Regions from separate parts of the Homo sapiens genome. Here region 2 is linked to region 1. The links come from fine-mapping of genetic effects on gene expression. A gene starts in region 1. The other region holds a variant in brackets. All regions are shown on one strand. Distances are between the middles of the regions. Region 1 holds the start of TSPAN7 (tetraspanin 7). Region 2 overlaps TSPAN7 (tetraspanin 7).

Region 1 (2,917 bases):
AATATATGGTGGTGGGTGAGGGGCGGGGGTGAGGGGTGCAAGAAGAAAACAAGCAAAGGTTGAACTGGCTTTTCCTACAGAGCCTCAGATTTCAAAATGACTGCCGTAGAAGCTAAAATGACCCAGATTTGGGGGACAAGGGGGGAAGAGGGTCGATATTCATTCCCCTGCGGGGTAGCTGTAGCTTGATTATGGGCGTAAGGAACTAGGGAAGACGGGGTCACCGACATGAAAAGAGAAATAACAGGGAATGGTCTTTAAGTACCACGCACCTCTCTCAGTGAATCACTGCAGTGTCAGCCCTGCACTGATTCCATGATTTGCCAAACAGGATGAGGTAAGGCACAAGCCTGGAGCCCCCTCCTCCTCCTCCTCCTCCCCCTCCTCCTCCTCCCCCCTCCCCCGCGCAGAAAGGCGCATCCCTCCGCGAGGTGCACCACGCAGCCCCCCGCGGCCCTGGCTGAGGGGTGACGTCACCCTTCTGCATTGAGCTTCAAGGACCGGCGGCAGCACTGGATAGATGGGGAGTAGAGTTGGGGCGCTATCTCTATCACCAAGTGGAGGGGACCCTCTGCCAGGGCGCTGCGGATTGTGCTCATGCAGTGACAGAACCACCAGATAGGGAGTGTAAGGATGCAGGGAGGTGGGAAAGGAATCCAAAGACTCATCTCTTGGGTCACCAAGAAACCTCAAAGATGCCCCCGGCTTATGTAAGACCCTCTCCCTTTCGTGCGCCTCCACGCGGTGACAACGCCTGCTCCCCATCGTGCGCTTGGGAGACTTCGGTCGCCCTTGCCCAGCCAGGCAGGCACGGTGCTTCTGGTGCCTCCCTCCCGCAGCCCCGTGGGGTCAGGAATAACTGGGAATCTGAGATTAAACCCCACGCTCCCGTGTCCTCTCCTAGCCCGCCACAGGTTAGCTCCAAGAGGCGCCGCGAACCGGCTGGTAGGGGAAGGGAGAGAAAGGTGTACAGCGAGGAAAACAGACGAATAAACCCGCAACTTTCCCCAGGAGCTGACCCTATCCCGGGAGATTATAAAAGAAACTAATGCATTAACATTTTTTTTTTGGAAGGTCGACAACCTGCAGTCACCGACACTCCGCAGCCCCTTGCAGCCTGCGCGGAGCGAGGTCTAGGGTTCCAGCAGCCCCGACCCGCACCCTGCCATCCTGCAGCCCCGACCCAGCACCCCGCGCCTGTCTCCTTAAAGAGGGGTCCCAGATTTGATTTTTGGTTTGGGTTTTCCTCCCCACTTCTTTTCTCAGAGCATCATCATACGGACCGATGGACAGCGACTCGGCCACCGGCCCGGCGTGGGCACTTACCCAGAAGACGAAGGAGTAGATGATGAGGAGGGTTTTGAGACAGGTTATCACAGGTTTGGTCTCCATTCTCCTCGATGCCATACTACAGAGCTCCGGCGGCGGCGGCGGCGGCGGCAGGCGGCGGGCGGGCGCGCGGGAGGGGGAAGAGGCGGGGCGGGGCGGGGCGGCGCGGGGCGGGGGCGCGTGCCGCGAGAGGCCTCGTGAGCGCGCAGGCGAGGCCGTGCGCGTGCGTGAGCGCGCACCGCGCGGGGCTCCTACTGAAAAAGCCGGGCCGGGCAGTGACTGCGCATGCGGGAAACGCCGCCCGCGTTCGCAATACTGCGCAGGCTTAGACCCCCAGCGGAGGAGGGAGGCGAGGCCAGGCGAGGCCAGGCGAGGCGACACGGGGCGCGGCAGGACAGTGGGGAGGGAATGGGAGAATTTAGAGGCCGGGTCAGAGGTCACGGGAACCTCTCCCAGTCCGCCCTGGCATTTAGATTTCTGCTTTGTACACAGTTGGGCGTTACATTTGCAGGTATGCCTGCACCTGGCTATGGGAAGTTTATGGGTGCCCCGCTGCCCATCAGTCACGTTTCTGCATTTTGACACCCCCCAGGGCCTTCTCACATGGAAATGGCCCCGTAGTCATGTCCTTGGCAACCAGCAGGCCTTGTTTGTGCCAGGAACAGACAGGTGGCCAGAGATACAGCTGGAGGGATGGGCAGGAACGCCGGAGCTCAGACAGACCCCAAATCCTCGCCACCACAGGTATCTGCAGGCTCCTCCATTTTTCAGATTTGTCTTACATTTTGAAATAATAAAACGAAATGACAAGAAAGGTCTGTATGAGGCGTCATTCTTGCTGCGCATACAATGTTTAACAGAATACAGAAAAATGTTTAATATGCCTGAGAATCATTTGCAGCGCGCTAACAAGTACAGTCCACCTCCCTCCTGTAAAGGAAAGCTGCATTGAGGTCAAAAAATAATGTTCACAACCAATTTGGAGTTCCTCAAAAAGTTGAACAGAGTTTGCATATGATCTAGCAACTCCATTCCTGGGTATTTACCCAAGAGAAATGAAAATATATGCCCACACAAAACCATATACATGAATGTTTATAGCGGCATTATTCACAATAGCCAAAAATTGGAAACAACTCAAATATCCGTCAGCTGATGAGTGGATGACCAAAATTCGGTGCCTCCATACAACGGAAAATTATTCGGCCACAAAAAAGAATGAAGTACTACTGGTAAATGCTGCAACGTGGATGAACCTTGAAAATATGCTAAGCGAAAGACGCCAGACACAAAAGACCACATATTGAATGATTCATGTATAGGAAATATCCAAAATAGACAAATCCATAGAGACAAAAGAGATTAGTGGTTGCAGCGAGTGGGAGGCAGGAATGAGGTGACTTTTAATGGGTAAGCGGCTTCTTTTTAGAGTAATGAGAATGTTCTAGAATTACATAGTGATGATGGTTGCACAATACTGTGAATTACTAAAAACCACTGAGTTGTATACTTTAAGAGGATGACTTTTATGATATATTAATTATATCACAATAAAAACGTACATTCCACCCAGATATGGTTTGTAGAG
Region 2 (2,917 bases), 92 kb before region 1:
AGGGCAGGATTTTTGTCCTATTCATCCTATTCATGGGTGTATCCCCAGGGCCAATACAAATGCCGGCTCACAGGAGGGGCTTAGTTAAATATTTGCTAACTGACCAAATACAAGACAGCAGGCAGGTAAGTAAGTATGAGCTTTGGAGGCATAAAGTCTATTCTCACTAGCACTGCATCAAGGAGGCTAAATGGTGGGCCTGACTACTGTAAGGCCCTGGCAGTTGCACTCAGATAAAAACCTGTGCTTTAGCCAATTGCTTCTAATCCAGCACATTGCTTCATAAATGTCTGCTTTTGGCCACAAGGGGGACTAAATGAGAAAGCATGGGAATAGTTCCTTCTAATCCATCACCACTAATAGAAAAGTAATTTGAAGCTCTAATATCCTATAACTCTATGAGGTCTGTAGCTGATGGTTAGGAGCCAAGATAATGAACAGCATTTAAGTAAGATTTCCCTGTCTCTTAAAAAATGTACAACTGAGGTGCTTACTATCTGTGTGCCCTGTACTATGCTAAGTGCTTTAATGCTTTATCTGGCTCAATCTTCTTAATAACCCTATGAAACGTGCCCAAGGTCATCGCCACTAAATGGCAGAACAGTTACTCAAAGCCCTGACCCTCCACTACTGCTTTCCTTTAATGTCCTCTTTAGCCTGTCTGTAGAAGGTTCTTTCTCCTCAACCCTTTACTCCTAACTCTTCCATAAGAGGAGTTCATAAGCCAGCATCGTCCATCCTGGCACTGATTTTTCCTTGAATCAACCCTGAGAATTTGGCTGCCATAATTAAAAATAAATAAGATCTATAGGCATGGCCAATAATTCATTTATTTTAAAAGGCTATCCATTAGCATTAGGAGATATACCTAATGTAAATGACGAGTTAATGGGTGCAGCACACCAACATGGCACATGTATACATATGTAACAAACCTGCACGTTGTGCACATGTACCCTAGAACTTAAAGTATAATAAAAAAAATAATAAAAGGCTATGCATTATTCCCCTCCTTCAAGCAGGTAAATCTATAGAAATGAAAGCATGTTCCACTCCAAGCTATAGTTTGATACTTTAAAAGCCAGTATGGGAAATAAATATCTTCATGTGTATGTCGACGTGAACCAGAAATGTTCAATATCATTAGCACCAGGAACAAACCTATGGGAGGACTGATCTGAAGAATCAATAAAGCTTGACAAACACATGGAAAACTGTAGTGTCTTGAGTATTGGTTTTCCACCAAGCACATTCTAGAACGAAAGCTTAAGAAACTTAAGTACTCTGGTTTTGGCCCTGAGAAGAGAAACAAGAGGCCACAGGTGCAACATATATGAGAAGAACCCACTCTGAAACTGTGGAATTGCCTTTCAAAGTAGCTCTAACCAAAAGTGATGGGCTGAGTCACGAGATAAGGCAACCGCATCGTATCTGCTCACCCCACAGCCTGGGAGGGGGATTTGATTGGCTGTTCATGAACGAAGGGCACAGTCTGGAAACAGAGTTAACCATGTATGTGTGTGATAAACGACATTTATTGAGCAGTACCGTGCTCCTTATA[C/T]GCTTCATCACATTTATTCTTAATCTCTGTTTTGCAGATGAAAACCTGAGGCTTTCGGTTGTTGACTTTCAGCAACGTGCTCAAAGTCACAAAGCAAATAAGTGGTATAGCCCGGAGTCCAATCAATTTCTGTCCAACTCGAAGGCAGTTTTCTTGGCCATTATTATATTCTGCCTCTTGCGGCAGTGTAAGTAACAGCAGTCAAGGCCAAGGGCTGAGTTCCTCTGTCCAATATTACCCAGTCACTGACCCTCTCGTCTAGGTAGGTGAACGCTAAAGAGAAGCCTGGTTTTCTTTATACTGCCTAAGGGCTTCCTACGAGTGAGCTGTGAGGAAACCAGTACCCTGAACCAATTTCCACAGCGAGGTTTCTTGGGCAGTTTCTAATTGTCAATAGCCAGGAAACATGGGTAAACGCAGAGTGGGAAGAAACGGACTCTACAGACTGACCCTGGGGGCACTGGCCTTTTCCCTTCTCCTTTCCTGGGACGGGCCTCCCGTGCCCCTTATTGGGCATACTCCATTTTATGAACTGGGCTGTGTTCTGGATTATTTATACATTACTTGTTTGAAACTCAAAATGTATTTTCTTTGAGAAACCATGTTATACCTGGTGGCTTGTTTCTAGGCCAGTCCTCAAAAATCTATATTTAAGCCAGTATTAGGGAAAGTTATAGGGAAACAGATTTTTGGCTCATTACAAGGAAGAACTTTCTAATAATAGGCACTGCCCAAAATGGAGTGGGTTGCCTTGGGAGGTGTTACAACAGAAGGTAAACAGCTTTCTGGGCAGCCCCATAGAGACTCTGGATGCAACCATGGGACAGAAGTCCTATGACTGGGAACCCAGCAGGAAGGCCTAAGTTACACTGTTTCTCAAAACCTGTTCTCATTCTGACTATTGTCCCAGAAGACTTGTGCTAGCTAATTGGCTAGCCTTTGCTAGCCAATTATCTCCCTGGATTTTCATACATGGATGAATAGGAGCATTAACAGCACAGGAATTGGGGAAACCATTTTCCCAGATCTGGAGTTTCATTTCCTTTGATCTTCAAAGGAAGCGATAGGTCATACAATTTTGACACATTAAGAGCAAGAGAAAAGCCTGTTCAGTGTAATGGGGCTGCAATGAAAATGAGCTGTGTTCTTTAAAAGAGGATATGGCACTGGAAGGAGTATTTGCCTTATTATTTTAATTCTTCTATTTTCCATAAGCAAATACACTCTACATCACTTAGAGTCAGAAATCCTGGATGACTTTAAGAATCAGTGAAGCTGGTTAAAGATAAATTTACAAAAACTATAGTTGCAACCTTCATACTTTTCACATATAGACAAGGATTCTGTCAAAAACCT

The links. PIP is the estimated chance that this variant, and not a neighbour inherited with it, causes the effect.
Region 2: its variant is fine-mapped to the expression of TSPAN7 in whole blood (TOPMed, PIP 0.97).

What each region holds. Positions count from the first base shown.
Region 1 is chrX:38,560,037-38,562,953 of GRCh38, reverse strand. It overlaps TSPAN7 (tetraspanin 7), which reads right to left and starts at 1,412. Exons shown (of 8, transcript NM_004615.4): 1 at 1,327-1,412. The coding sequence starts at 1,407. RefSeq lists an enhancer at 811-1,312.
Region 2 is chrX:38,651,838-38,654,754 of GRCh38, reverse strand. The region is part of intron 1 of TSPAN7 (tetraspanin 7); the gene reads right to left. Among named protein-coding and RNA genes, the nearest start is that of TSPAN7, 92 kb to the right of the region's middle. The variant C/T (reference allele first, on the strand shown) is at 1,562.